Linked DNA regions of Homo sapiens: all the other regions are linked to region 1. Evidence: fine-mapped expression QTL. A gene starts in region 1. Each other region holds a variant in brackets. All regions are shown on one strand. Distances are between the middles of the regions.

The links. PIP is the estimated chance that this variant, and not a neighbour inherited with it, causes the effect.
Region 2: its variant is fine-mapped to the expression of PANX1 in spinal cord (GTEx, PIP 0.93).
Region 3: its variant is fine-mapped to the expression of PANX1 in whole blood (TOPMed, PIP above 0.99).

The regions. Positions count from the first base shown.
Region 1 is chr11:94,124,637-94,135,616 of GRCh38, reverse strand. PANX1 (pannexin 1) reads right to left here and starts at 6,776. Exons shown (of 5, transcript NM_015368.4): 1 at 6,124-6,776. The coding sequence starts at 6,304. RefSeq lists enhancers at 1,885-2,384, 6,204-6,463, 6,784-6,843 and a silencer at 6,484-6,553.
Region 2 is chr11:94,206,926-94,217,905 of GRCh38, reverse strand. LOC105369435 (a long non-coding RNA gene) reads right to left here. Exons shown (of 5, transcript XR_947901.3): 3 at 3,655-3,824. Among named protein-coding and RNA genes, the nearest start is that of PANX1, 84 kb to the right of the region's middle. The variant A/C (reference allele first, on the strand shown) is at 5,442.
Region 3 is chr11:94,189,908-94,200,887 of GRCh38, reverse strand. It overlaps LOC105369435 (a long non-coding RNA gene), which reads right to left and starts at 3,479. Exons shown (of 5, transcript XR_947901.3): 1 at 897-3,479. The variant C/G (reference allele first, on the strand shown) is at 6,668.

The sequences.
Region 1 (10,980 bases):
TCTCTCTTGGCTCTTTGGTTTAGTGTGAGTTGAAGATGTTCTATTATAGGACCTATGCCATGAGACCCTAAATATTGGCCCACTCTGATAGACAACCCTGAAAAGAATCGATCTGCTTTGCCAGCTGGTACATGCTAAAAAGCAGCCTGAAGATATTCCCAAAGACAGGTCTAAATTCAGCCACAACAGAGCAGATAACTTAAGCCACCCAGCCGCTGACTCAGTTGCAGGAAATGAAAGGGGAACTCCAAGCAAACTATATTGGAAGCAGCTGCAGTTATATCTATCCTTTGACTCACTGGGGCTGGCCCAATGCCTGCCCTGTAATGATAGCAAAAGAGCAGTGCTAACTCAGAAAGACTAAGTCCTTCTCTACCCAGAACGGTGGCTGCCCACTAAGAGGTCAGTGGGTGAGGGAGGCAGGGTCCCCGGCTGACCAGACACCCTTTCCCTAGTAGACTACTGGCTGCCCCAGCTCCCCACCTGGTCCAGCCAGCCAGAAACATCCTGGCAGGAGACACGGGCTCTCCTTCCCAGGGGATATGTGCCACATGAGGCACCAGGGAATCAAAGCAGCCCCTGACGCCTCAGGCCTTGTACAGCCCTAAGCGCAGGGCACAGGAGGCCCTGTCAAAAGACCCCTTAAACATGAATCCCATTCAGAGTCTGGTCTGTTGATAGTTTTGTCTTCAACCAGGCTGCTGTAAGAAAATCCCACAGACTGGGTGGCTTAAACAACAGTTATTTTCTCACAGCCTGGGAAGTTCAAGATCAAGGTACCAGCAGATTCGGTGTCTGGTGAGAGCTCTTTTCCTAGTTTGCAGATGGCCCCCTTCTCCCAGCGTGCTCACACACCTTTCCTTGTGGCCGCACTTGTGGAGAGAGGAAGAGGGAAGAAGAGAGGAAGGGGGGTAGTGGGAGAGAGAGGGAAAGAGGGAGAGAAGGAGGAAGAGGGAGGGGGGAGAGGAAGAGGGAGGGGGGAGAGAAAGAGGGATTTCTTCTTTTTCTAAGGGCATCCCATCATGAAGGTCCCACTCTCATAATCTCATCCAAACCTAATTACCTCCCAAAGGGATCTCCAATTAGCATCACATTGGGGATCAGGACTTCGACATATGAATTTTGCGGTTGGGAGACACAAACATTCAGTCCATAACTGCAGCACACTAAGGGAATTCATAACTTTAGAGAAATACTTCTAGAATTTCAGAGCTTGAAGGTCACGTCATGCAATCATGCTTATATTCTACACAAAGCTGTCGCCCAGCCATTTCCTAAACCTCTCCCCCCATCAATGAAATGTGCAGCACTTCTAGAGGCATCTGAGAGTAGATGTGTTAGAAATGAAGGGCCTCAAGGCACTGTCTCCCAGCAGCTTGCACAAGGTGACACCCATAGGGTACCCAAGCCACACAGATCACACTCATCCTTCTTCCACAGTACACCATTCTGCACTCTGAACACAGATTCTTCCTCATCACAAAAATAACATAAAAAAGAATCTGAGGCACACGCAATATAACCTGAGCTTATAAATCAAGTGGGACAACTTACCTATCATGACGATGTGCATCCTTTACTGCTATCATCAGAGGCAGGTGTCTGGGAGGTGGCCAGGACAGGCCTGACCCAGGACAGCACTTGTATCATTAAATGGCACTCAGAGGGCGCACTTCCAAGCAACTGGGACCCTTATCCAGAACACTCCGTCCATTCCCTCAGCACAGCCACTCTGGGAGAGTTCCCTAGTGTGCTCTGGCACTTCCTTCACTAAATTCCTATGGAGCACTTGTTGAGGGCAAGACATGGTAGAAGACAAGAGGAAGGAAAAATGAGGGCTGGTGAAACCACTGATTCTCCCTTCTCTGGCTCCCACCACACAGCCTTTCTAGCCCAAACTCACAATTAAACTGTCTTTTGCTGTGTGTCACTTATTTTCCCCCTACCCAGCTGAATCTCAGAGGAGGCACACCTGCAGTATTTTAGAAAGGCTGACTAGAAGTATCAGGCCTAACCAGACAGGTGCACATTTTAGTTCTTACATTCAATCCTTAGTATCTCACTGTCCAAAAGCCTTCAAAATGCTCCCAGGCACAACTCAGAAGAGTCTCCTTGCCACTCCCTCAGGAGGGTTTCTGCTTGTAATTCTCACTATCACAGGGCACATCTGGACCAATGAGTGGCTGCCGCAAAGACTACCAAAGTTGCCTCCACCTTGACCATGGCACCAGCCTTGCCATGCCCCTCCAGACCACATCACTTCTGCAGTGACCCTCAACCTGTGATTGTGGGCAGCCAGACCAAGATCTGGTGAATGAGCAAGGCAGAGTCCCTTCTGCTCTCTGTCCCCAACACAGTCCCCACCAGCCCAGGTAGCCCCACACCAGTGCCTACCATGCAGGACCTGCGTGAACTGCTGTGGGAGGGAAGGGGCCAGAACCTCTGAGGAGTGGACGCTTCACCTGCAGCCACCATGCTGGCACCCAGCAGGGCTTGATAAAGATCAGCCTGCTGCTATGCCCATGGGTCTCTGTGGCCCAGGCAGGCTCAGTCCCTCTTTTCTGAGAGGAGCCCAGTGGGCTGAACTACTAAGAGAAAAGGCCAAAGACCAAACGGAAGCCTTTAATATGAAGCCAAGTATTTTATCATATGAGGACATTCCCTCTCTCTAACCTACAACACTCCCACCCCCACAGAGAACCTGCTCTTAAATCTAAAGCACAATCCATGCACATTTCTTGATTTAATAGATTTTCTTTAAAGTAAAAAATCATTTATTTAAAGGAAAAATCGCCACAAAGTTTCAACTTGAACCCTATTTTATCAAACAACAGTTGACAGAAAATTTAATTTTTGGAAAGTAACTGGAAAATATAATTTATTTTACGCTTGAGGGGATTTTATATCAAAAGAGATGAATTCTTATATATACTAGTTTATCATACAGGTGGAAAAAGGAAAAACATGTAATTACAGCTGATTTTCTCGTTTCTAATTTTATACACACACACACCACCCCCCCAACACAAACAGGAAAACAATGGGATTTGCTATGCCTTCTTTCATGTGGAGCCCCTGGACCCTTACTTTGGCTCCCACCTCTCCATGTGACGGTGCCACTAAAGCTCCAGCAGCCACATGTTGTCTCACACGTCTCAGCTTCAGCCAACACTGCTCCACACACTTGGAATCCTGCCTCAGGGGCCAACTCTGCCCTGAAACTCTCACTGTTCATGAGTCAGAAGAAACCCCTCCTTCTGCCTTTCCACAGCATCAGGCTTTAGTACACACTTCTGACACTGCCCAGGTTCCATGAATCCTGCATTAGGAGGGTTATGCGTTCAACTTCTCTACTAGACCGTGCTTCCAGAGGAAAGATTCTTATGTCCTACGTGTGTCTGACACCCCATTGCCAAGGTACAGCATCATGCACATAACAATCAATTAGCAAGGTCTGATGATGCCAAAAGCTATCACCTTTAATTCACAACAAATGTTTATAGAGTAGTTTCAATCTCCATGCAAAACATGCATAGACAGGTTATAAAGCTCTGTGTTAAGTTCAACAAAAGAGTATTCCAAGCACCAGAGAGGGAAGCAGTAATTATCAACAGAGGAAGGATGAAGCCATGTTTTAAGTCTGCAGGCCTTATCTCAGTGTCTTCCCGGGGCCTGAGTTCACTGGCCAATATGGTGGGCAAAGTGCCAGCTCCATTTCAATTACTTCATTCTCCCTTTATTGCTGTTCTTTTTTTTGGTTTGTTTTTGGCTGAGTGCATACTACTAACTACACAAAATTAAATGCTGCATGACATGATCCCTCCCACTGTACCAACTCCATGTATTAATCTATGTACCTCTCCCCTCTTCTCAAAAGCCCTTCTTCTGGTTTTATCTAAATGTATACCTAATCTAATAGGTCTTCCCTGGTCCTGTTAGCTTCATCCCACATGTCTGTCCTCCCCTGGAACTCCTGAAAACACTTCAGAAAACATGGGAGTCTGCTTGACAGCTCCTCACCCAAGTGCCTGCCAACCTTCACCAGCCTGGAGCTCATAGCTCAACACCTGGCTGGGTGCTGAATTACACACAGCTGAATGACTTACCTGCTAACAGATACCTTCTAGTGCCCAACTGCATAGTAAACTGCCACAGGGCAGGGAGAGGGCAGGGCAAGAACAAGGTCTCAAAATCCTTTCCCATCTCCCTCAGCACACAACAGTGCTATGCACACAGCATGAGCTCAAACTCTTGCTAGTTAAAACCACTCCCAATACCCCAAAAATACCTCTCAGACAGCCCACCAATTTAGACGTATCTAAGGCATTACAGGTACAGGTGCCTTAGGAGTCCCTCTAGTACATGTGCTAGAGGTGGAGATTGGTCACAGAGGGTGACTAACTCCTTCCTCCTGCCTTTCTGTCCCAACCAGGTACCCAAGACTTGCACCTCCAAGACAGGGATCATGCCTCTTTTACTCCCGGGTCCTTGGAGGTCAGCACCGAGTTCAGCACACAGCCAGTACTGAAGGAGGAATTGACCAAAGGGAGAGATTATCTCCAGGACTCATGCTACTTGGTGGTTTTGCTTTCAGCTGGAAGCCTCAATCCACTGTCAAATGGAAACTTAAAGAACATCCCGATGACTATGCCTGCGCAAAGAGCAGGAAAACTAAAAACTATTTTCCACAATGAATTTGGCAACTTCCTGCCAAGCTGAACAACTTAGTGCTGCAGATTGCAAAATCACACTCATAGTCATTCTTTCCTAATCAACTATTCCCTCAACTTCACAATTCCCATCACCACCAACACCACACTCCACTCACCCAGACATACAACCTCCGCAGCACGTTTGACCAGTACTGCCGTTCATGGCCTATTAAATACTAGGTACTCAAGTGCTGCTTATTTACTCCTTGATCGCACAGCAATCACCCACCCATTTTCTTCCACTCTTCACACCCTCTGTGCACAAGACCTCAGCCGATGCCTTGCTCTCTGGCACCCAGCCCTCCAGGCCCCATCCTCTCACCTTCTTCCCAGACCCTAAATGCCACCATCATTCAACCAGTCTGTCCTCTGCTCAAACAATAACTTCACAGTTCTGAAACCATCAGCCTACACTCTTCTGTTCCAGGCTGACCCAGGCCCATATTCACTCTCAGACTCCAGGAACTCTGACTTATCCTCCTGCCTTGGCTAGGAGAGTCACTGTGTCTCTCTTTCCAGGAACATATAACATTCTCTGCCATCTCAAAACCTTAACAAAGGTCTTACTCCTTCTTGTCCAAATCCCACCCACCCTCTGACAAAAGTTTTCCCAAAGTCCAGCCGCACTGGGTCCTCTCTCTTCCCCTGCCACAGAACTGTATTTAACCCTCCTGCGCTACCTTCCTGTTGGTTCATAAACACTCTCTCCTGTGTGGAGAGTCAGAACAGCTGATGAGGAAGGTAAGGCACGTAGCCACGTGATCCTGCCCAAACCACCAGACTTTCCAATCTCACACAACTGTTATGAAGCTCAAATGATAATTTACAGGAAGGGGACTTGTTCATCTCACATTTGTAAGACCGTCCAAGTTGAGGATCCCTCTAATGCCTGCCAAGTGCAGATATTTCCTATCATTCACAACCCTAGAGAGCTAAGATCTCAGCAAATACCAATTATATGTAAGACACTGAAAGAACACACTTCTCATGGAGCACCGGTCTTCACATCCTCCATGTAGCCACTCAGGAACTTCTCTGGTGTAAAATTTTAGGCGGCTGGACAAATATGTAGGAGACAGGGGTGAAAAACGGGGACACAGCTATTCTTGGCAAATCTGGTGGCAAGGTGCCAGTTCTAAGGGTGGAACATAAACTATAAGCCACAGTCCGATCAGAGGGGCATGAGGAACAAAAGAACTGAGGAGTAGGGATGCGAGCAGAGTAGACCAGGGTACCAATGAAACACCTGGGCAAAGAACGCTTTGGACCATAAAACTGGGGCCACTGCCCTTCCTGACGCTCACGACCATCACAGCTGGGCGTACCCAGACTCGGGCCTGTGAGCCGTAAAATCGCAGCTCACCGGGCCAGACCGGGGCGGCCACTCCCCTCCGTCCTGGGCGAGGCTTACCAATCGAGATCTCCTGCGCGAAGGCCAGCGAGATGAGCAGCAGGGGCAGCCCCACCGCAATGCACGTGACCATCTTGTCCACAGCCAGCTCCAGTCGCAGCCCCTTGAACTTGGGCTCCGTGGGCTCCTTCAGCAAGAAATCCGAGAACACGTACTCCGTGGCCAGTTGAGCGATGGCCATGGCTGCGGCGCGCCAGGCTCGACCAGGAGGTCCGGGTACAGCCGGCGTCGGGAAAGCTGCGCGGCGCCTTCACCCAGTCACCGGCCGGGCGCGCGGCTTTCGCTTTCCCTTTGCCTGCTCCCGCATCCCGCCTGCCTTTGTGTCTCGGTGCCTCAGGCTCCCAGCGACTCCGCTGGGCTCTCGCGCTCGCTGCCTCCGCCGCCGGCGGGGCGGGGCGGGGCGGGAACCCGAGAGCTCCGCTTCCTGCGGTTCCACCCCGCACGCCCGTGCAAGTCCCCGGGCCGCGCGCGGCACTCGGATTCGCGCCTCTCCCGCGCACCCCCAGGCGCGGGAACCACGCGCGGAACAAAGCGCTTCCCTCTGGCCCTGCCCCTCCGCGCCGCCCTGGCTGCCGAAGCGGCCGCCGGGATAGCCCTGCGCTCACAGCCAGCTGCGCCGCGCTCTTCCGGAACCATGCGGGGAAACCAAGTACCCAGGGGCGTGGAGCTTCCGGAAGACGCGGTGACGCGGGGCGGGGTGGGCGCGGCTGCATTCCGCGCCCCTCGGGCCACTCTCTGACAAAGGGATTTTCCCACTGAGCGGCACCTTTGGAAATTCTCCCGTCCCTCCCTGCCGGATTCTCCTCACGTCCTGGCACCCGGGAGTTTTAAAATCATTTCTGCAAGCGACTCTTTCTGTGGATGGGATGGCCCCCTTTACGCCCCACCCCCAACATTTCCAACACGGTGAAATCGGGTTAGAAGGAGCTGCAAAAGCTTCAAAGAACAGTCAGTGCCATAAAAGGCCAATCGAGCGGTGTAGACCGACGGTGCCTTGCAGAGGGAGCGCTGGACCCTTCCAGGAGCTCCGCGTGAGAGGGTGGCGCGGAAACGGTAGTGAGTGTGGAGTTTCGAGGCCTGAGTAGCGCTGCTGGTCCCGTTTCTCTTTCCTCTGCCATCCCAATCAGAGCCTTGTTCCGGGAGCCAGCAGAGAGAGGGGGGCCTGCAGGTAGGTGGGTGTTGGGGCTGCAGAGAGCTGCTTCTGAACAGCTCATAGGAAGTGGATGATGGAAAGACAGGAGGAAATACTCTGACCAGTGTCCACGGAAATTAAGGCTGTTGAAGTAGAAATAATTTGATTTATTGGAAGCTAAATGTGAGGATCCACCCAAGAAGACTTACCAGCAAAGTTGGGCATGTTTCAAAATTTGTTACACGTTGGAAGGGTTTTAGAAGAAAGTTTAGGAAAAGGGAGGAGGACCCCTTATATCAGAGGTGGGATTTTTTTCATCGGAGGGTATGGTACACAGGTTACAGTCACTGGCTGCAGATGACAACATACAGGCTAAAATGTTTTGTGCACAAGAAAATCAAAGTTTATATGATTCAGAAACAAGTCAGTGTTCTTTTCAATGTCAGTATTTTACATACTAATCAGTACATCAGCAGTTTGAGGAACTGACAAAAGGATTTGAAGGACTCACAGTAAGATTTTTTACTCAGGGACAGGATCTAAGCCATGAATCATAAGACCTTTCTTAGATGGCTTAGTTTGGAAGCCCTGTCAAATGTGACATGTAGGTTATCACCAGTAACATTTGAAGCAGGCAGGACCTGCAAACATGAGGGCTCCTTGGGGCAGGGCTTGGCTCCCTTCTCTGTGGGTCCACAGATACAAGCCTCAACTCCCACATGTACCTCTCCACCCCAGCCTGGCCGCTAAACACACATCCAAGAGCGTATACAGCTCTCTCCGCGTAGATGGCTCATAGGGCTTCAAACTCATAACGGCCAGGACTTCAGTCTTCATCTTCCCCTTAAACCTGAACTCCATCTTCCCCATCTTACTAAATGTACCACCAGCCACCTGTGCACCCAAGTCGGAATCCTGGAGCACCATCTTCAACACTCCATTTCTCACAGCTGCCATAACCAATTTTCAAATTCTCTTGCTTCTCTCTCCTAAATATAGCAAATCTGACACCCCTCCACCTGCACTGCCAATACCCAATTCAACTCACCATCCTGTCTCCTAACCACATATAGGAAATATGTGAGACAGGGTCCCCCTCCATTCTCCTCTACAGCTGCCAGGATGAGCTTTTCAAAACTCCAGTCGGATCATCTTTTCTACTTAAAGTGTACATTGTTTTTAGCATAAAATACAAATTTCTTAGCATGGCCTCTGCCTACCTCACCACCAGCTTCACTGCTTTCCTTTCAGTTCTTCAAGTTAGCTAAGCCCTTGGCCTCCTCCAGGCCTTCCCACCCAAAACACTCCCCACAGTGGCCTCTTTGCCTGGCCCACCTTTATTCACCCTTCTGGCCTCAGCTTGATGTCACTTCCCTGGGAAAGCCTTCCCTAAGTAGACAGACTAGATTAGGTCCCTTTGTGAAATTCTCCCATAATACTAGCCACACTAGTTACTAGCTATTAGTCTTGGGGAGTTCTTTGACTCTCCTGTGTCTCAGTTTTCTCATCTGTAAAAAGGTTGTACCTCTTAGGACTGTGATAAGGACCAAATGAGTTAACACGTGGGTAGTGCCCAGTGCCTGGCACCTTGTGAATCTAGGTACATTTCATCTGTCATTGTTCTCTATTTTTCCTTCTTAAAAATAGTCACCATTGCAACTCAACAAATATTTATTCATTTATTTAGTGTTTGCCACCACTTTATGTGATCGGCTTCTTGAGGGTAGGCCCATGCCCATGTGTACCACTTTTATCCTCAACACTTAGCACAAATGCCTCACACAGAGTTGATGTTTTAATTCATATTATTAAATAAATGTCTGAAGGAATCTGAACACTTTTTAAAACTGGCCCAGTTCACACTCATTTATCCATACATTCCAGGCATATATTAGAGGCTGGTGATGGGCCAGTTCTGGGCTCAGTGGATGGGGAAGCAGAAATGAAGTGAATGGATTCCATTTCCTCAAAGACCTTATGGCTTAGCAAGAGAAATAAGGCATGCACACAATTAACTATAATGCAAGGTAGAAAGAGTGATTATTGTGAAAAGTGGGGTATACCAAGGGAGGTGCAGAGAATAAGTAGGGCCTGGGAGAATGTGTCAGTTGGGACATTCAGAGCTGGGACAGGGGCTTTCTGGGAGTCAGGAAATCATGGGTGCCATTTCCCTTCTTTCCTTGCCAAAAGCTAATCATCCGATAGGCTCAAATGGCCCCTTTTTAGGCTCAAATGCCCCCTTTTTAGGAAGCCTTCCAGGATCCTCCAGTTGTAATGAATCCTTCCCTCCCTTGTTACTCTCTCCTCTGGCCTAGAAGTTAGTTCATTTTGCCTCCTGTGATGGGATGATGGATTGTGTATCTCTTTTTTCATTACATAGCAAGTTCCTCTGAGGATCTGGAGTGAATCTCAGCAGTTGCATAAATTGCCCTCAGTTTTGGCAATTTTTTACATTCCATATGATGTTATCCTACTTTTAATGAATTTAAAATAGAAGCCAGATGGAGAACTTGTTGGAAAATAGTGTGTCCGGAATTGATTCCTTCTGGTGGGTTCTTGGTCTCACTGACTTCAAGAATGAAGCCACGGGCCCTCGTGTTGAGTGTTACTGTTCTTAAAGGTAGTGTGGACCCAAAGAGTGAGCAGCAGCAAGATTTATTGTGAAGAACAAAAGAACAAAGCTTCCACAGCATGGAAGGGAAGCTGAGCAGCTTGCCGCTCTGGTGGCCAGCTTGTATTCACTTATTTGGCCCCGCCCACATCTTGCTGATTGGTCCATTTTACAGAGCGCTGATTGGTCCATTTCACAGAGTGATAATTGGTGCATTTACAAAACTTTAGCTACACACAGAGCACCGATTGGTGCATTTTTACAGAGTGCTGATTGGTGCATTTACAAACCTTTAGGTAGACACAGAGCGCTGGTTGCTGTGTTTTTACAGAGTACTGATTGGTGCGTTTACAAACCTTTAGCTAGACACAGAGCACTGATTGGTGTGTTTACAATCCTCTAGCTAGACAGAAAATTTCTCCAAGTCCCCATCTGACCCAGAAGCCCAGCTGGCTTCACCTCTCAATCCCCCCTCTAAACAGGACACCCCAACTGCTGTTGGGAATTGGGTGATGACTGCTCTAGCTACTTCCTGCTGGATAGGAGCAAAGAAGGGGCCCTGCAGTTGTAGTATCCTCCAGAGGGGAACTCTTTAGGCCAGTGAAAGGACCAGCGGGTCGGTCCAGGGGTCCTCGGTAGAAGTTGTTAGTTGAGCTCATTTGGGGTTCCATTGGTAAGACCATCTGTAGCTTGATGGCCTCGATCCTAGAGGAAACAAATTTAACAAGGAGTTTAAAAATACAGGGCCCGAAGGCAAGTAATAGTAAGATGGCTGCCATGGGACCTAGAAAGGGGAGAAGCCATGTTGCCCAACTCCAGAGGTTGGTATAAGAGTTTGAAAGGCATTGTCTGATTTTGGAAGCCTTTTCCTGTAAACGCCAGGTGGCATATCATACTATCCCTGAATGGTTAGTGTGAAAACAACACTCTTCCCCTAAGAAGGTGCACAGTCCTCCTTTCTCAGCAGTGAGGAGGTCTAGGCCTCGGCCGTTTTGGAGAGTCGCTGCTGCCAAAGAGTCTATTTGGGATTGTAGAATAAGGATAGATTTCGTTATCTCTTGCAAACTGTCTGAGAAATCCTTTGAGAGTGTGTGGTAGTAGGATAATGAAGTAG
Region 2 (10,980 bases), 82 kb before region 1:
GCAAGAGAAAGAAATAAAAGGCATTCAAATAGCAAAAGAAGAAGTGAAACTATCTCTCTTCACTAATGATATGATTATATGCCTAGAAAACCCTAAAGACTCTGCTAAAAGGCTTTTGGAACTCATAAAGGACTTCAGTAAAGTTTCAGGATACAAAACCAATGTTCAAAACTCAGGAACATTTCTATACACCAATAACATTTACGCTGAGAGCCAAATCAAGAACACAATCCCATTTATAATAGCCACACAAAAAATAAAATACCCAGGAATACCTCTAACCAAGGAAGTGAAAGATCTCTACAAGAAAAAACTATAAAACAATGCTAAAAGAAATCACAGATGACACAAACAAATGGAAAAACATTCCATGCTCATAGATTGGAAGAATTAATGTGGCCATACCACTCAAAGCAATCTACAGATTTAATGTTATTCCTATCACACTACAAATGTCATTTTCTCACAAAACTAGAAAAAACTATTCTAAAATTCATAAGGACCCAAAATAGTGACCAAATAACCAAAGCAATCCTAAGCAAAGAGAACAAAGCCCTAGGCATCACATTATCCAACTTCAAACTAACTATAAAGCTACTGGTACAAAAACAGACACATAAACAACTGGAACAAAATAGAGAACCCAGAAATAAAGCTGTGTACTTACAGCCATCTTATCTTCAACAAAGTTGACAAAAATAGGCAGTGGGGAAATGACTCCCTATTTAATAAATGGTTCTGTGATAGCTGTCTAGCCATATGCAGAAGAGTGAAATTGGATCCCTTTCACTTATACAAAAATTAACTCAGGATGAATTAAAGATTTAAGTGTTAGACTGTAAACTGTAAGAATCCTAAAAGAAAACCCACGAAACACCAATCTAGACTTTGGCCTTGAGAAATAATTTATGACTAAGTCCTCAAAAGCAATTGCAACAACAAAAAATTGACAGGTGAGACCCAATTAAACAAAAGAGCTTCTGCACAGCAAAAGAAACTATTAACAGAGTAATCTGTGACCTATGGAATGGGAGAAAATATTTGCAAAATATGCATCCAACAAAGGTCTAATATCCAGAATGTATAATGAACTTAAACAATTGAACAAGCAAAAAAACAAATTACCCCATTAAAAAATGGGCAAAACACATGACCAGACACTTCTCAAACAAGATATACAAGTGGCCAACAAACCTATGCAAAAAAGTTCATCATCACTAATCATCAGAGAAATGCAAATCAAGACCGCAATGAGATAACATCTCACACCATTCAGAATGATTATTATTTTAAAAATAAAAAATAGCAGATTCTGTCAAGGCTGCAGAGAAAAGGGAATGCCTATACGTTGTTGGTGGGAATGTAAATTAGTTCAGCCACTGTGGATAGCAGGTTGGCGATTTCTCAAAGAACTTAAAACAGAACTACCATTTGACCCTGCAATCCCATACTGGGTATATACTCAAAGAAAAACAAAACATTCTACCAAAAAGATACATGCAAATGTATACGCATTGCAGCACTATGCCCAATAGCAAAGACATGGAATAAATCCTGGTGCCCATCAATGGTGGATTGGATAAAGAAAACATGCTACATATACACCAAGGAATACTACGCAGCCATAAAAGAGAATGAAATAATGTATTTTGCAACATGGATGCAGATGGAGGCCATTATCCTAAGTGAATTAACGCAGGAACAGAAAACCAAATACCACATGTTCTCACTTATAAGTGGGAGCTAAATATTAGGTACTCATAGACAAAAAGATGAAAACAACAGACACTGGGGACAATTAGAGGGGGAAGGGAAAGGGGAGGGAACCATTGAAAAACTAACTATTGGGTACTATGCTCAGTACTTGGGTGATGGGATTAATTGTACTCCAAACCTCAGCATCACACAATGCAAACTTGCACAGGTACCACCAAATCTAAAATAAAAGTTGAATTTTTTTAAAGTGCTTCCATGTGTTAAAAGCTGTAGCAAGGGAAGAGGGAAAACTGGTGAGTTGACCACTAAGACTTAAGCACTTGGTCCAAAAGCAACACACATCCCTTTTGTTCTCATTTTATTGGCTATATCTGGTAACACAAACATAGCCAACTTTAAGAGGGCAAGGAAGCACAGTCTTACTTATCTGGACATAGAGGAGAACCACACATTGGCACCCATTGGCAGCGTCTACCACATTGGCACTGGGACTTGGCGTGATGTATTTAAGTCAGATATACCCTGTTCGAGTCCCAGCTCTGCCACTTGCAGGGACAAATAACTCAATCTTGCTGAGTTATTTTTTCTTTTTGTGTAAAATGGAGACGACACCTGTTCCTGTTGAGACTCAAATGAGCTAATGTAATTGCAAGTGTTTTGAGAACTGTAAGCACTAGCTATTAATTGTTAAGATTATCAGAAGCCCTTGCAAAATTTAATAGAAGAGGGAGCTGAGGTTTCTAAATAGAGAAATGACAAAGTACAAAAATACCCTCAGGGGAAACATTTCTAGCAGTTAGGACTAGAGAAGGAATTCATTTTTCATCCGTTCTTAGTCCTCACTGTCTTATATAGCTATTTTTTGTTCTTCTTTTATTTATGAATTGTTGATCGACTCATCATGTACATGTTTAAGGTTTCAGGGACAATGAATTGCATCTCTCTTTTCTATCTAAGTTTGGAATCAATTGAAAAATAGAAGTCAAGCAGAGGGAAAATAAAATGTAAATTTTGTTAGTAATAAAGCTGATATTGGAAAACATAGCATTAGTGTATGCAACGGTGGGTTTCTTAATACTAAGTACTAGAATTAAACAGATCCTCTCAAATCATTTCAATATAATGCAAGTGTGTTTAAAGAAATGTGTGCAAAGAGCTATGGAAACAGGGCAAATTACTCCTCAGCTCTGTGGTGCCAACCACAAAATAAGGATGGATTAGAATGTCAGTCCACCATCCATGGCTGTGCAATTGTGTACTGCACAACTCTAGAGGATATTATAGCCTATGTGCTATTCCCCCTTCCCTCCAACAACAAGTTGAGTAAAACACAGCTTGAATGACTGCACATAGAATAACTGCATGAGAAGAATAGACAACCTTTAGGGCGTGTAAACCACTTTGAAGATCTAATGAAATACAGGGATAACACTATCTGTAGAAAGATTCACAAACTCAGTGTAGAATTTCACAAATAATTTCAGGGGTGACACAAACTGTCAAAAGCTCATCTTTGAAGAGCCAATTAAGAATTGCTTCAGAAAATGATCTCCAAAACCCTTTATAGCTCTGATAGTCCATAATTCTGGATTGCATGGTTTACCTGGCAACAATCTGGGGAAAATGTATGAATGATAAGGTTAAAAAAAAGATAAACTTCAAAACACAATGCACGCATCAGCACAGAGCACAAATGGCCCAAGCCTAAAAAGCTCAGGCAAAAATCTACAGTAGTTACTAGGATAGGCTTTTGAAATTATGGATAGCTTCATTTCTCTCTCTTTTGACATTTAGAAATTGCTGTGTTATTTTTATAATGTTTAAAAAGAAAAAAGAAAGAGATAAACAACCCCTGTGGTTTCTGTGCCATTGGCATTTCTTTGAGAGTAGACGTTGTTACTGCAGGGGAGGTAAGATTTCCATGACTTCCTGGCTTACCATTTCAGTTGACTCTCCAGAGGTCACGGTCAGTGAGACTCACCTGAGTCCCAGCCCCTGGCCTGGTTTTACTTCTGAAATCACATTCAGAAGAAAGTTAGACCAGCAGGGCTATGTGAGAGGCTGACTTTAAATGAGCTTTGAAGTTTCCTTCCAAGATGCGGCGGACCCTGTAAAGACACAGTTCGGTGTATATTAAGCTTTTCAATTACTTTACTCTGAACGAAGGTGCCTCTTCCCTCTCCATTCCCTTCAGTTAACATATTATGGGATGATAACACAATATCTCAAATGAGGCTTTTAAAAGACTTCACTTTTACTCTGAAGAACATTCTCATCTTTTCGTGGGAAGCAACTACTTTTTATTTCCCAGGGACGTAGGAACACCGAGGAGGTAGAACAGAGGGCACACAATCAGAGGCATGGGAAAATGGGAGGGATGAGAACATGGACAAGGAGACCGATATTCTCTCCTCTGAAGGACTTCCCTGTTCTGAGAGCTTCCAAAAAGTGAGAAGGCAGGATAAAAGCCACAGTAACCTGCTGGGAGACCTCCCAAGGAAATTAAAGTCTTCCAATCCTTGGTAGTTTAGACTAGGCTAAGCAGACATTTTATATGTGTTTAATTGGTGCCTTCCATCATGTGAAATGGTTTAAATCTGTTGTTCTTGGTGCAGTGTGGTGGCTCATGCCTATAATCCCAGCACTTTGGGAAACTAAGGCAGGAGGATTTCTTGAGTCCAGGAGTTCGAGACCAGCCTGGGCAAAATACTGAGACTCTGCCTTCACAAGAAAAGTTAGCAAGGCATGGTGGTGCATGCCTGTAGGTCTAGCTACTTGGGAGGCTTAGGTGGGAGGATCGCTTAAGCCCAGGAGTTGAGGCTGCAGTGAGTTGTGATCACACCAGTGCATGCCAGCCTGGGAGACAGAGCAAGCCCCTGCCCCCATCACACATAAAAATTAATTGTTCTCAAGCTTCAGGATCATCTGGATGATTAAAATAGTTGGTTAAGATAGTGGCCTCACCTCCAGAGTTTCTAATTCAGTAGATGTGGGATAAAGACCAAGGGTTTGCACTTCTCACAAGCACCCAGGGAATGCTGTGGCTACTGGCCCACAGACTACACTTTGAGAACTACTGGTTTGACTGCATTTCCTATTTTCAGAATGAGAAAAACAGAATATGAACAGTGTGTTCAGGGCAATAGAGGATGCCGGAGAGATAAGGAGAATCCAGTTTTCCTGGAATGTCAAGCAAAAAAGTCTGTATTTATTCTAAAGTAATAAGAAGTTACTGAATGATCTTAAAAGAGTGAGTCAGACGGCCTAAATTAAAATTTAAGAGATTATTCAGGAGGCATTCAACTCCCCTCTTCCCTTAGAAAGACACCAGAAAGATGTTAAGGGTTAGGCTTACGCCAGGAACTCCAGGTGAAAAATGGATTGAAGATAATATACAGTCAAGAAAGGTGATGCCCATTAAGACATGGGTAGAGGGCTGACGTGGAGGAGGTAGTCAAAGGAGCAGCATGTTTCTAATACCGGTTTAAAGGGTGTAATGAGGATCCATTGTCTGGGCTCTGGGAACAGGCTATTGATTATATTCTGCAGGCAGCATCACCAAACTTTCAAATTTAAATCTCTGGCTTTTTCTCCATATAATACTCATTATACATACATCACGTAGAAGAAAATATAGATGTAAAAGAAAACACATAGTGCATCACACAGATCATGGACATTGTTAAATTATACCACAATGCTTATCATGAGAAAATTTTCTGGGC[A/C]AAAGGAGAAGGAATTACAAAGAGTGAAAGAGGAAGCTGTCCCATATGGGATGGGAGCTGGGGTTATGACATTTCAAGATGGAAGGCATGTAGTGGCAATATATATTTGCTGAGAAGTGAATGGATACATGAATGCATAATTTAACAGTGTCAAATTAAAATCTATTGAAAAGACTTAGAATGGAGCAAACCCAGTGGCTTTAAATGCTATGCACTCAATGGTTTTCAGATCATGAGAATTAACCCCACTGGATCTCTGCCCTTTCACACTACAAATGGGGACTGTGCTCAATTCATAACAGGACGTTTTGAGAGGGCAGTCACATGTTTTTGTGAACTGAGAGAAAAGATAATGGCTCTAGGAAAATGGCTCTATGTGAGAAGTTGCCTGTGTCATCTTGTGTGGATGCTTGATTCTGATTGCCCTTGGAGAGCTTGGGTCCTCCTCATTATCTTATACATGTCTCATGCAGATTCTCAGCTTTCCTTCAACTTTCAAATGATAGTCACTTCTGGGTTGAGGTTGGCACTAGAGTACACAGAGTTCCCCTCTACCATCAGTCTCCACCTGCCCCGCTCCTGCCATGATGAGGCCTGGGACCTGCCCTAGGGCAACACAGTGATTTTGAGAACCAGGAGATTTCAAATGTCTTTGCTTGTTCAAACAATGCCCAGTTATTTTCCTTTGCCAATAATTCACAACTTCTGGCAAGATTGTTTCTGGATGTTATGTTCATTTTATGGCTACATATGTCTTCAAAGCTGAGACACAGCTTCCGACACAGTCTCCTCTGGCTCTGGTTCAGAACTGCCTGAATTTTCTCTTCATCACATCCTTTTGATGGATCACATTTGGGTCACAAAAAGTGATTCCTATGGTCAGTTTGGGCTTTAGAGTCCTATAAAATTCTGGATGAAGCACAGAGGACCTTTGCACTAGATTTTAATGTTTCACTGTTTGAGTGGGCTCTGTTAACTGTGCACATGGGGTGCCTGACTGCAATACATGTCTCTTTCTGAAGCCAAGCAGTTCATCCAAATTAAACTGCTAGAATCTGCAATGAGCTTCGAGGCAAATACTCTGTCTTCCTAGTGGTTTCAACTGTGTAGACAGAAAAAATTGTACATAGAGCTAACTACACACACAAAAATCTGGTTTTGGCCACTGGTTTGGGCACACTCAAATCCAAAGTTGGTTTCTTGCTTTCCTCAGCTTTACTGAGGTGTAGCTAACAAAAAAGTATACATTTATTATGTAACAACATATTTTGAAATATGTACATTGTGAAATGGCTACATTGAGCTAATTAACATATGCATTACCTCACCTACTTATAATTTTTGTGGTGAGAAAGAACATTAAAAATCTACTCTTAGTGATTTTCTGGTTTTCTTCCTTCAACTTTTATTTTAAGGTCTGGGGTACATGTGCAGAATGTGCAGTTTTGTTACATAGGTAAACACGTGCCGTGGTGGTTTACTGCACAGATCATCATATCACATAGGTAGTAAGCCCAGCATCCCTTAGCTATTCTTCCTGACGCTCTCCCTCCCCCCGACCCCTACCCCCCACAGGCCCCAATGTGTGTTGTTCCCCTGCCATGTGTCCATGTGTTCTCACCATTCAGCTCCCACTTATAAGTAAGAACATGCAGTGTTTGGTTTTCTGTTCCTGCATTAGTTTGCTGAGGATAATGGCTTCCAGCTCCATCCATGTTCCTGCAAAGGACATGATCTCATTCCTTTTTATGGCTGCATAGTATTCCATGGTGTATATGTACCACATTTTCTTTATCCAGTCTATCATTGATGGGCATTTGGGTTGATTCCATGTTTTTGCTATTGTGAATTGTGCTGCAATGAACATACACGTGCATGTATTTTTATAACGAATGATTTATATTCCTTTGGGTATATACCCAGTAATGAGATTGCTGGGTCAAATAGTATTTCTGCCTCTACATCTCTAAGGAATGCCACACTGTCTTCCACAATGGTTGAACTAATTTACACTCCCACCAACAGTGTAAAAGCATTCCTTTTCCTCCGCAGCCTCACCAGCATCTGTTGTTTCTGGACTTTTTAATTATCACCATTCTGACTGGCATGAGATGGTATCTCATTATGGTTTTCATTTGCATTTCTCTAATGATCAGTGATGTTGAGCTCCTTTTCATATGTTTGTTGGCTGCATGAATGTCTTCTTTTGAGAAGTGTCTGTTTATGTCTTTGCCCACTTTTTAATGGGGTTGTTTTTTTCTTATAAATTTGTTTAAGTTCCTTATAGACTCTGGATAGTAGATCTTCAACAGATGGGTAGATCACAAAAATGTTCTCCCATTCTGTAGGCTGTCTGTTCACTCCGATGATAGTTTCTTTTGCTGTGCAGAACCTCTTCAGTTTAAAATGATCCCATTTGTCAATTTTAGCTTTTGTTCTAGTTGCCTTTGGCATTTCATCATATAATCTTTACCCATGCCTATGTCCTGAATGGTATTGCCTACATTTTCTTCTAGGGCTTTTATTGTTTGGGATTTTACATTTAAGTCTTTAATCCATCTTGAGTTAATTTTTGTATAAGATATAAGGAAGGGGTCCAGTTTCAATTTTCTGCATATGGCTAGCCAGTTCTCCCAGCACCATTTATTAAATAGAGAATCTTTCCCCCATTGCTTGTTTTTGTCAGCTTTGTCAAAGATCAGATGGTTGTAGGTGTGCAGTCTTATTTCTGAGTTCTCTATTTGATTCCACTGGTCTATGTGTCTGTTTTTGTACCATTACATAATGTTTTGGTTACTGTAGCCTGTAGTATAGTTTGAAGTTGGGCACCATGATGCCTCCTGTTTTGTTCTTTTTGCTTAGGATTTTCTTGGCTATATGGACTCTTTCTTGATTCCGTATGAATTTTAAAATAGTTTATTCTAGTTCTGTGAAGAATGTCAATGGCAGTTTAATGGGAATAGCATTGAGTCTATAAATTACTTTTGATAGTATGGCCATTTTCACGATATTGATTCTTCCTATCCATGAGCATGGAACATTTTTCCATTTGTTTGTGTCCTCTCTGATTTCCTTGAGCAATTTTCAAGAATATAATACACTGTTATTAATTGTAGTCACCATATTTTACAATAGATTTCTGGAACTTATTCCTCCTATCTAACTGAAATTTTTCATCCTTTGATCAACATCTCCCCAACTCTCACCTGCTCTTAGCCCCACCATTCTACTTTCTGCCTAAGTATGTCTTTTAAAAATTACACATATAAGTGGGATCATATGGTATTTATATTTCCGTACCTAGCTTATTTCACTTAGCGTAATGTCTTCCAGATTCATCCATATTGTAACCAATGTTAGGATTTCCTTATTTTTGTAAGGCTCAGTAGTATTCCATTGTGTGTGTGTGTGTATGTGTGTGTGTGTGTGTATATATATATATATAATTTTCTTTATTGATCCATTAAGGGACAATGAATTCCATATTTGTTAATTCCATACCTTGGCTATTGTGAATAATGTTGCAATTAACATGGAGTACAAATATCTCTTTGACAAACTGATTTTTTTAATATATACCCAGTAGTAGGATTGCTGGATCATAGAGTAGTTCTATTTTTATTTTTTTCAGAAACTTCCAGACTGTTTTCCATAATGGCAGTATTAATTTACATTACCACCAACAGTGTGCAAGTGTTCCCTTTTCTTCACATCCTCACCAACACTTATCTTTTGTCTTTTTGATAAAAAGTAGCCGTTCTAAGTGGTGTGAGGTAATATCTCATTGTGGTTTTAATTTGCATTTCCCTGATGATTAGTGATGCCCATTTTTCATATACCTGTCAGCCATTTGCATGTCTTCTTTCATGAATGTCCATTCAGGTTGTTGGCTCATTTTAAAAATCAGGTTATTGGTTTTCTTGCTCTTGAGTTGAGTTCCTTATATATTTTGGATATTAGCCCCTTGTCAGATATATGGTTTGCAAATATTTTTTCCCATTCTGTATGTTGTCTCTTCACTCTGTTGATTTTTTTCCTTTGCTGTTCAGAAGCTTTTTAGTTTGATACCATCCTATTTTCACTTTTGTGCCTATGCTTTCGGAGTTATATCCGAAAAATAAGACAAATGTCATGCAAGTTTCCTTTATGTTTTTCTCCAGCAGTTTTATAGTTACAAGTCTTATGTTTAAGTCTTTAATCCATTCTTACTGACTTTTTATGTGGTGTGAGATGAGGGTCTACTTTTCTTCTGCAGCATATGGATATCCAGTTTTACCAACACCATTTATTTGAAGAGACTGTCTTTTCCCCATTGTGTGTTCTTGCACTTTTAGCAAAAATTAGCTGACCATAAATGCATAGGTTTATTTCTGGGCTTTCTACTCTGTTCCATTGGTCTATGTGTCTGTCTTCACACCAGTACCATGCTGTGCTAATCACCATAACTTTGTGATATATTTTGAAGTCAGATAGTGTAATGCCTCCAGCTTTGTTCTTTTTACCTTGGCTATGCAGGGTCTTTTGTATTTCCATATGAATTTTCTGTGAAAAATGCCATTGGAATTTTTGATAAGGATTATATTGAATCTATAAATTACTTAGGGTAGTAAGGACACTTGACAATATTCTTCTAATTCATGAACATAGGGTATCTTTCCATTTATTTGAGTCATCTTCAATTTCTTTAATCAATGTTTTATAGTTTATAGGTCTTTCACTTCCTTGGTTAAATATATTCCTAAGTATTTCATTCTTTTTGATGCTTTTTAAAATAGGATTGTTTTCTTAATTTCTTTTTTGAGTAGTTTTAGCATATAGAAACTAATTTTTGTATATTGATCTTATAACCTGCAACTATACTGAATATGCTTATTAATTCTAACTGAGATTTTATGGAATCTTTAGTGTTTCTATTTATGATTATGTCATCTGCAGAGACAATTTTACTTCTTACTTTAGGATTTGGATGCCTTTTATTTCTTTGTCTTGCCTAATTGCTCTGGCTAGGACTTTCAGTGCTAGGTTAAATAGAAATGGCAAGATTGGGCATGCTTGTTTTGTTACAGATCTTGGATGAAAAGCTTTCAGCTTTTCACCATTGAGTATGATGTTAACTGTGGAATTGTCATCTATGGCCTTTATTGTGTTGAAGTGCATTTCTTCCGTATCTAATTTGTTGAGGTTTTTTTTTTTTTTTTAATCATAAAAGGACGTTAAGGGCCAGGTGCAGTGGCTCATGCCTATAATCCCAGCACTTTGGGAGGCTGAGGCGGGTGGATCACCTGACATCAGGAGTTCGAGACCAGCCTGGCCAACATGGCGAAACCCCATCTCTACTAAAAATACAAAAATAAGCTGGGCATCATGGTGGGTGTCTGTAATCCCAGCTACTCTGGAAGCTGAGGCAGGAAAATCGCTTGAACCTGGGAGGCAGAGGTTGCAATGAGCGAAGTTTATGCCATTGCACTCCAGCCTGGGTGACAAGAGTGAAACTCCGCCTCAAAAAAATAAAAATAAAAGGACATTAAAAAAGGAAATT
Region 3 (10,980 bases), 65 kb before region 1:
TTGTTGCCCAGGCTGGAGTGCAATGGCTTGATTTTGGCTCGCTGCAACTTCTGCCTCCCAGGTTCAAGTGATTCTCCTACCTCAGCCTGCTGAGTAGCTGGGATTACAGGTGCCCGCCACCACACTCAGCTAATTTTTTTTGTATTTTTAGTAAAGACAGGGTTTCACCATGTTAGCCAGGCTTGTCTCGAACTCCTGATGTCAGGTGATGCACTCACTTTAGCCTCCCAAAGTGCTGGGATGACAGGTGTGGCCATCACTAAATGAACACTTACCCTGTCCAGGGAGGTTTATTGAGGCAGAATGCTGGGCAGCTCAGTCACAAAGGACCACAAGTTTCGACTATGACATCATGTTCAAACAATTTATAAATAAAATCACAAAGATTTCCTGAGAAGAAGATATTTATCATTCAGACTTTGTGTCTAATTTCTAGACACAGAGTCATGAGGAACCTTGAATTAATATTTTCTAGAATTCCTATAATCTTGCATTGTATTTTTGTACTAAAAAAGTGATAATTCAAAAAAATGTATACATAAAGCTCTTCCTCAATTTATGTAATATTGTTGCTATTCACTTTCTATCTAAGAGCCTTAAAAAATGGGAGGTCTGCATCCCTCTTGGCCTGGGCAAGGCTCCCGTAGGTACCAGGCACTCTGCTTTCTAACTTCCTTGTATCATTTCGTAATTTCTCCAGGCAACCTAAAGGCACAGTATTATCTCAATTAAAACAAATGAGAAAATGAAGGCTGAAAGGCTTAATTAACCTTAAGCCTAATAAGTGGAGGAAGTGAGATTTGAACCCAGGTATAGCTTGATCTAAAAGCCCTGACACTTATAATCACTGTGTAGGCTGCTTCTGATGGAAATTTCCACATTGCAGGGCCACTTACCCTCCTTGTTGCTTTTTTTCACCTGGGTTTACCAACATTCCCACCTTTCTCTTGGAGCTTCTGCTTCCAATTGCTCCTCCTGACCCAGATGGAGGTGGCAAGCTGGGAGAAGCAAGCACAGAGAGTCAGCATTTTGTCAAGCATAAAGTCAGGAAGGAATCCCACTGTTGTACTAGAATCTGATGGTTTCCATAGCAACAGAATCAATCAATCAGTTAATCAACAATAAATTGTTGAGCATCATCCATAAACTCAGTTCAGTGTTGCAACTTGAAGGGCAAGGAAGAGGGAAGAGGGTGGGAGCAGAATTATGAAGATGAAGGAGGCACGGGGCGAGCTGTGGGTGTGGGCGTGGGTATGGCTAGTTTCCTGCACCAAATCTGTGCAGAGAGGCCAGAAGTTGGCTGTGATTCAGAAAGGCAGATGGATATCATTCTGAGCTGCTGCTCAAAACTCTAAACCCCAGAGCCACTGTTGGTTGATCCACTGTGTTCAGGTACTTTTACAGAAACCCTGGCAGCTCCTGAATGTCAATAGAGGAGGAATTAGGGGCAGCCATATAGTTGCTTGAGTGTGGGCTAAAGGTTGTGTTGTGAAACTGCATTTATTTAGAAAGCATACTGACTTTTACTTAAATTTAAATTTCAGATGGCCGGGAAGTAGGCGGGTCTAATCAGGAGGAATTAAACTACCCCCTCCCTGTTCTTGACCAAAGTATTTATTAAAGACCTCTTAAGCACATGTCACTTTGCCTTTTCAATGTGGATTTTAAAAGCAGAACAAAGACTGAGGATAATTAAACATACTCTAAGGAATGGTGAATACATTCATAACAAATATAAATTGTAAAAATTGAAATCTACCAGCATTACTACGATGCAGCTCTGATGGCATCTCCAGTTCCTTCTCACTAGGCAATGGGTAAAGTTCTCAGCAGGGAAGGCTAGGACCTGGTCTTCTGTTGCTCTCACTGGCCCACAGCAGTTCTTGGTGGCCCTGTCACTTCCTTTGTTCACAGATGTCATGCCAGTCATGGAGTTAGCTCTCTCCCTGTTAGTTTTAAGGGAGAGAGCTTTTGCCAACTGTATTTCCAGAGCGCTGCCTACTTCTGCTGCCTGCTGCTGTGCAGATCCCTGTTTAAAGACTGGAAATGAGGAGGCAGGAGAGCCAATTCTCAAGCCCCAACACACATAAGAATCACCTTCAGAGCTTGTGAAGAATTCATATTTTGGGGCCTCACTGTCAAGATTTACTGAGTCGGAGGAGGGGTCAGGAATCACTCTCCAAACACCTCACAAGATTCTGAAGCCTGCAGGACCACCTCTGGGAAACACTAGTGTGCATGGTGGTTGGGAGAATGAATTCTAGTCAGGGAGGTCTGTATTTTCACCTCTCATATCTTGTCCTCTCAATTGTAAAATGGGGAAAAGAGCACCTTCCCTTGGGAGGCCAAGTGCCACCCCAGGCCCTGCAGCTAGTAAGTGGCAGAATAAGGCTTGTACTTGCTGGCCCTAAAGTTGCATTTAACCTCGATGTCAGAGTGGGTCTAAAAGCTGTGATATGACTCCTCCCCAGGTCTCCAGCCACCGCAGGCCAAGTGGGGTGTCATGTCCATGAGGATGATAAAGAACATATGAGTAGTGCTCACCACAGAGGATGTACTCAGAAAATGTGTGATGAATAGATGATCAGACAATAATTACAGCGGCATCATTTGTGGAGTCCCTTCTCTGGACTGGACCCTCCACTAGTGCTTCTGAGTCCTGCCCTGGAAGTGGGCCCCACTATTTGTCTATATAGTGACCACTCATGTGACAGCTACCAGCTCTCCCCCTCCCTACCTCAGGACAAATTAGGGGATATGACGCCCTTCATCTAGCTTCTTTCCCCCTCTACTCTACCTCCGTACCCTGTCTCAGAACTCATCTTCCTCATCTATAAAGTGGGGATAATTGACCCTCTTTTTCCTGCTATTGGACTACAAAATGAGACGACGTCAGTGCTATGGACCAAATGTATGTGTCTCACCAAAATTTATATTTTGAAGCTGTAATCCCCAATGTGATAGTGTCTAGAGGTGGAACCTTTGGGGGGTAATTAGATCATGAGGGTAGAGCCCTCATGAATGGGATGAGTGTCTTTTAAGGAGCAGCCAGGGAGTGAGCTAGCTTTCCCTCAGTCACGTGAGGATACTGTGAGAAGGCATCCCTCCACAAACCAGGAAGTGAGCTCTCACCAACAACCAAATCAGCCAGCACTTTGATCTTAGACTTCCCAGACTTCATACTGTGAGGAATACATTTCTGTTAAGTCACCCAGTCTGTGGTGTTCATGTTCTAGCAGCCCAAACTCACTTAGACAACCAACATAAAGTGCCCCCTCCACCATAAAGGATGTTTCTGACCCCTCTGGCTCCCTTCCAACTAAGGATGTGTATTAGTCCGTTTTCACGCTGCTGATACATACCCAAGACTGGGAAGAAAAGGAGGTTTAATTTTACTTACAGTCCATCATAGCTGGGAGGTCTCACAATCATGGCAGAGGGCAAAAGGCAGTTCTTACATGGCAGTGGCAAGAGACGATAAGGAAGAAGCAAAAGCGAAAACCCCTGATAAACCCACCAGTTCTCGTGAGACTTACTCACTATCACGAGAATAGCACAGGAAAGACCAGCCCCCATGATTCAATTATCTCTGCTGGGTCCCTCTCACAACACCTGGGAATTCTGGGAGATACAATTCAAGTTGAGATTTGGGTAGGGACACAGCCAAACCCTATCAGAGGGCCAACCACATTGGCAGCACTCAGCCCCAGTTCAGGGTGGGCTACACTCATGGGGGTGGGGTGCACAGGGCCATCAGGGATGCCCAGCCCTTGAGTCAGGGTGGGAAGCCAAGATAGTCCAGTGGGCCACAGCTGGTGCTGCCTTGTTGCTTCTGTGAATGTACGTGCCCTCTCAGAACACTGTCTTTTCTTGGAACTGGTGAAAGGAGCTAGAAATGTGTGCAGGGCACCAGGCCTCTAGCATGGCCTATAGTGGGGGTGTCCTCAGGGACCTTCATTGTTCCTTTGGTTCCCAAAAACGCCACTAGATCTTCCTAATAAACAGGTGTTGACAGATTCTGATCCTTCTGGAACAACTTCCCCTTCTCCTAGCTGTCTTCTGCTGGGTCCCCCTGGTTCAGTGCACAGGCAGGCAGTACAGCACAGGGCAGGGATTCTCAGATGTTGGTATGTTTCAGAGTCACCAGGAAGGTGTGATAAATGCACATCCCCAGGCCCTGCCCCAGAGGTCCTGACTCAGTGGGTCTGTGGAGAGGCCCAGGAATCTGCCTTTTTAACAAGCATGTCCACATATTCTGATGCAAGCAGTCCTCTGGTCACAGTTAGCACTGACATGACTCGGGTTTTCGAGTCAGGCTGGCCCAGGATTAGATCCTGGCCGTGTGGTTTGGGCAGGTCATGGAGCTCCCAGGCTTCTGTTTACTCTTCTGGGGAGGGTGCCAACCTACTCATTATTACATAGTAAGGGGTAAACTAGTTCATTTAGACTGTGTGCTTTAGCAAAGCACCTACCACAGCAGGTGCTTTGTGAAGGAAACTTTTCCTAGGGCCAGGAGACTTCCCGCCTGCCCCCTAAGCCTGTGCACCACCACCTGAGTGCATGTCTCTTCTGATGACATGATGGGGAGTTATCTGAGGGCAGGTTGGTTGTCGGCTTGTTCTGGGGGCTGCAGGAAGAAAGAGGGGACCCCAGGGTGGAGGTGAGCTAAGAAGAGAGAACTTGTGAGGTGGAGGTTGCAGTGAGTCGAGATCACGCCACTGCACTTTGGCCTGGACGACAAGAGCGAAACTCCATCTCAAAAATAAAAAAATAAAAAAATAAAACATGAAAATACGGTAAAAAATTACTGAGAGTTCTACTGTAAGGCCAACAACAGATTCTAATAAAATAACCAGAACTAATATTAGGCTTCACCTGTGCCAGGCATTGTAGTTGCTGACATCTGTTCCCTCTTTTAACCCTCACAAGAGTCTTCTGGAGTAAGTGATATTATCATTATTTCTTGGTTGAATATTGTGTTGTTAGAAGATCAAGGAAGTTCTTTAAGTTGTGCAGCAAAACTGCATCTGCTGGCCTTCAGAGCCTCTTTAAATCCAGTTGAAAAAGAATTCCTCAAACTAGTGGCACTTGACCAAAATGTTACATGTTGATAGAAAAATATGCTTAAATATGTGTCAGAAAATTATGATGCTCTTTCCCTTCTGAAACAATTCAGTCCTAAAATCATTAAACAGGTGACCAAGGCAGCTTGGTGCAAAGTATAAGACCTCAAGACGAGCAAGGAGGTGGACACTCTGGTGATAACCGTGACTCTGCTGGGCAGTCCAGACTGGGCTTATGAAAGGCAGCAATGCATGGAGGACCCTCACTCCATAGACAGTCAAGCATTGCATAGTGATAACATTTCGGTTGAGGACAGACTGCACATACAACATACCTTATTTTTAAGGTATTACTGCACCTTTTCTACGTTTAGAGTTGATAGATACACACATACTTAATGCTGTGTTACAGAATTCAGTACAGTAACATGCCGTACAGGTATGTAGCCCAGGAGCAATAGGCTGCATCATATGGTTATACGATCTAGGTTATAGTAGCTAGGTTTGGGTAAGTTCTCCACGATGTTCACATGACAGAATCACATAAAGAAGCATTTCTCAGACTGTATCTACATTGTTAAGTGATGCATGACTATATTTCTATATTATCCGATTTTCTTTTGCAATAAATGTATACTCATCAATAGCTTGCATCATCTTTGAAAATTAAAACTAAAACTAATAAATGACAAAAGAGAAAGGAGTAGAAAATGAGAGGAGCCAGTGGCCTGTTTTGGGATTCACCTTCTGCCACCCCAGCCAGGCAGGGCAGGATGAGCTGGCAGCCCTGGCCCGGGGAGAGGAGCGCTGAAGCAGGCAGAGTGTGTGTCTCCGGCAGTGCCCACGCGGGTTTGCACAATGGCCCTGGGGGCTGGGGTTCCCTGGGTAGCTTCTCCAGCCTCCGCTCCAAATGCTCGGGAGGTTCACACCCACAAGGTCCATCTGGCTGTTGCCCGTGCTGAGTCAAAGATGTTCTTGAGTCATTCCAAAAATGCCCACGGCACCTTCACAACTCTGCCATCTTTGCTGCCACTCACACAGGGCCCAGTGACAAAACCTGGGGGTTGAGGGTAGGGTGTCTCGCTGCTCTTGGATGAGGTCGAGTTTTTCTGTCTTAGCAATAGCCTTTCCAGTATCCTTTCCCAGCTGAATTCGCCTCCATTGGGTTCTGAGCAGCAGCTCGAAATGATGTCCTTTTCACTTAACTATTGTAAATGGGTTTCTATTTGAGGTAAGATAAATAGCTATTGTTGAGCTCCTGTAGAGTGCCAGGTACATCATTCTCATTGAATCCTCACAACAACCCTGAGGAGTAGACACTGGTACAGGGAAAACATTTTAAGTGACTCACTGGGTCACCTCTTGGAAGTATTAGAGCTAAGACTCCAAACCAGATTTTCTGATATCAAAACTCAAATTGGGCTTTCTCAATATGCTAAATCGCCTGTCTGTAATGCTCCAATAGTTTGGGATTTTCTCGTTTTTCAAACATGGCTTACGATGTGAATAAAGAAAATGCTGCTAGACTTAAAAAAGACTGAGGGATTGAGTGTTTATTATGTGCCGGCATTACGTTTACTGCCTTTGTTTAATCGACTTCAGCC[C/G]TCGTCAAAATCCATGACTTTCTGTCATACAGGAGGGAACTAAGGCCCAGAGGAGTCAAGAACTCAGGTCACGCAGGTCAGCGGGCAGCCTCAGGCCAGAACTCAGGCAGCTTGTCTTGAGAACCCATTCCCTTAATGTCCCTCACCCCAAAACTAAAGGAACATCCTCACTGGATTGTGAAGATTTAATGAGCTAATATGCACTGTTTAATGCCTGGCATGTAGGCACTCAACAAATACTAATTTCCTTCCTTCTTTCCATCTGGATTCCCAGGGATCTAGTGTGGGACACGATGAAAGAAGACATAGACCACAGAGACACAGACCAATAGATTCTAGAGGTTGTTTAGTCCAAGCCCCTCACTGGGCAAATGGCTCAGAGAGGCGAAATTATAGATGGAAACAAAGCTTTAGGCTTTCTTGGTCTTCCTTTTCCTTTTTGCCACCATAATTCCCAGCAAACTCCATGACCCCAGAGGCTTGCTGGATTTTTCACCTTAATATGCCCAATACCAGATAGCAGGTGTTTGAAAAACCCTTTGTTGAATGAATGAATACCAACTTCACTCTGCAACTGAGTCTGAAGTCATGAAGGCTATTTCCTCATGAGTTTCCTATCTAGGGAAAAGCCCACCAACCCTTGGTTCCCTGCCCCAACCTGATCAATGCTCAGGGATGACTCACTGGCTTGAATACGAGCCCAGCTTCTCAGTTGATGTGCTGCACAAAGGCCATCCTTGGGCCAAGTGGGAGATGAATCACCTGGCACAGATTGCAGGCTTGGAGGAAGGCACAGGATAGTGAAGGGAGCACTAGGCTGGGAGAAAATAGGGTATGAATTTTTCTCCACTTAGGCAGTGGGAGTCTATGACTTAGAAAGCTCATCTGATGGGAAAACTTTTGGAGGGACTCTACCATGTGCTCTTATTACATTGCTTTCTCCACTTCACAGGTTAAAGAATGAGCACCTGTAGTTTGCTCTCAGAGGGGTGAAACACTACATCACCCACACACTGACTTTCAGCTTCCATCCATCTCCCCTCAGCTTGCTGTGTGCTCAGCATGTTGCTAGACTGAGGTTGGGGTGGGGAGGTTGACAGATTATTTGCTCCTACTGTTAGGTTGAGTTGGCGACAATCTCCTTAACTTCTGATGGTTCCTCTTAGTAATTTTCCATCCAATGACCCCCATCCTGCTTCTTGGTTATAAATTTCCACTTGCCCATGCTGTATTCGAAGTTGAGCCCAATCTCTCCCACTGTGAAATCCCATTGCAGTGGTCCTGATACCTGTTGTGATGGTCCTGAATAAAGTTTGCTGTCCCATGCTTTAACAAGTGCATCGAACAACTTTTCTTTAACAAAGACTACTAAAAAGGCACTAAGATGCCTGAATTTAACAGACTTGTAGCCTTTATGAGAAGGACTAGCAGCAAAACAAAACAAAATAAACATCAATAATGACAATTAAGGCAAGACAGTGTGGGCACTGGGGAAGCAGCCCAGTTCTTACTCGTTTATTTCAGATAAAAAAGCCTCAAAGGGAGGAGGTAGTTAGTTTGCATCACTGTGAGCAGGCGAGAATATGCATCCAGTTAACCAATTCTGCTTAGAGGGCAACTTAATCTTGCAGAAAGGAGACCGATCTCTAAGGGAAGAGAATTCCAGGCCAAAAGAAAGACACTGACAAGGACACAGGGACAGTGAAGCACTTCATTAGGTGGGAACAGATGTGCATAAAATAGTCTGGCCAACCTATTCCGTCCAATATGGTAGCCACTAGCTACATGCGACTATTGAGCTGTTTAAATGAGGCCAGTGTGAAATGAGATGTGCTCTAAGTAAAACATACACACTGAAATTAAAAAACTTAGAATGAAAAGTAAAATATCTCAATATTTTGTATCCTGAGACTTTGTTGAAGTTGCTTATCAGCTTAAGGAGATTCTGGGCTGAGACGATGGGGTTTTCTAAATATACAATCATGTCATCTGTAAACAGGGACAATTTGACTTCCTCTTTTCCTAATTGAATACCCTTTATTTCTTTCTCCTGCCTGATTGCCCTGGCCAGAACTTCCAACATTATGTTGAATAGGAGTGGTGAGACATGGCATCCCTGTCTTGTGCCAGTTTTCAAAGGGAATGCTTCCAGTTTTTGCCCATTCAGTATTATATTGGCTGTGGGTTTGTCATAAATAGCTCTTATTATTTTGAGATATGTCCCATCAATACCTAGTTTGAGAGTTTTTAGCATGAAAGGCTGCTGAATTTTGTCAAAAGCCTTTTCTGCATCTATTGAGATGTGGTTTTTGTCTTTGGTTCTGTTTATGTGATGGATTACGTTTATTGATTTGCCTTACATTGAAACAGCCTTGCATCCCAGGGATGAAGTCCACGTGATCATGGTGGATAAGCTTTTTGGTGTGCTGCTGGATTCGGTTTGCCAGTATTTTATTGAGGATTTTTGCATCAATGTTCATCAGGGATACTGGTATAAAATTCTCTTTTTTTTGTTGTGTCTCTGCCAGGCTTTGGTATCAGGACGATGCTGGCCTCATAAAATGAGTTAGGGAGGATTCCCTCTTTTTCTATTGATTGGAATAGTTTCAGAAGGAATGGTACTAGCTCATCCTTGTACCTCTGGTAGAATTTGGCTCTGAATCCTTCTAGTCCTGGACTTTCTTTGGTTGATAGGCTATTAATTATTGCCTCAATTTCAGAGCCTGTTATTGGTCTAAAAATCACAAGCATTCTTATACACCAATAACAGACAAACAGAGAGCCAAATCATGAGTGAACTCCCATTCACAATTGCTTCAAAGACAATAAAATACCTAGGAATCCAACTTACAAGGGATGTGAAGGACCTCTTCAAGGAGAACTACAAACCACTGCTCAACAAAATAAAAGAGGACACAAATGGAAGAACATTCCATGCTCATGGATAGGAAGAATCAATATCATGAAAATGGCCATACTGCCCAAGGTAATTTATAGATTCAATGCCATCCCCATCAAGCTACTAATGACTCTCTTCACAGAATTGGAAAAAACTACTTTAAAGTTCATATGGAACCAAAAAAGAGCCCACATTGCTAAGTCAATCCTAAGCCAAAAGAACAAAGCTGGAGGCAGCACACTACCTGACTTCAAACTATACTACAAGGCTACAGTAACCAAAACAGCATGGTACTGGTACCAAACAGAGATATAGACCAATGGAACAGAACAGAGCCCTCAGAAATAATACCACACATCTACAACTATCTGATCTTTGACAAACCTGACAAAAACAAGAAATGGAGAAAGGATTCCCTATTTAATAAATGTGCTGGGAAAAGTGGCCAGCCATATGTAGAAAGCTGAAACTGGATCCCTTCCTTACACCTTATACAAAAATTAATTCAAGATAGATTAAAGACTTAAATATTAGACCTCAAACTATAAAAACCCTAGAAGAAAACCTAGGCAATACCATTCAGGACATAGGCATGGACAAGGACTTCATGTCCAGAACACCAAAAGCAACGGCAACAAAAGCCAAAATTGACAAATAAGATCTAATTAAACTAAAGAGCTTCTGCACAGCAAAAGAAACTACCATCAGAGTGAACAGGCAACCTACAGAATGGGAGAAAATTTTTGCAATCTACCCATCTGACAAAGGGCTACTATCCAGAATCTACAAAGAACTCAAACAAATTTACAAGAAAAAGAAACCCCATCAAAAAGTGGGTGAAGGATATGAACAGAAACTTCTCAAAAGAAGACATTTATGCAGCCAACAGACACGTGAAAAAATGCTCATCATCACTGGCCATCAGAGAAATGCAAATCAAAACCACAGTGAGATACCATCTCACACCAGTTAGAATGGCGATCATTACAAAGTCAGGAAACAACAGGTGCGGGAGAGGATGTGGAGAAATAGGAACAGTTTTACACTGTTGGTGGGACTGTAAACTAGTTCAACCACTGTGGAGACAATGTGGCGATTCCTCAAGGATCTAGAACTAGAAATACCATTTGACCCAGCCATCCCATTACTGGGTATATACCCAAAGGATTATAAATCATGCTGCTACAAAGACACATGAACACGTATGTTTACTGTGGCACTATTCACAACAGCAAAGACTTGGAACCAACCCAAATGTCCAACAATGATAGACTGGATTAAGAAAATGTGGCACATATACACCATGGAATACTATGCAGCCATAAAAAAGGATGAGTTCATGTCCTTTGTAGGGACATGGATGAAGCTGGAAACCATCATTCTCAGCAAACTATTGCAAGGACAAAAAACCAAA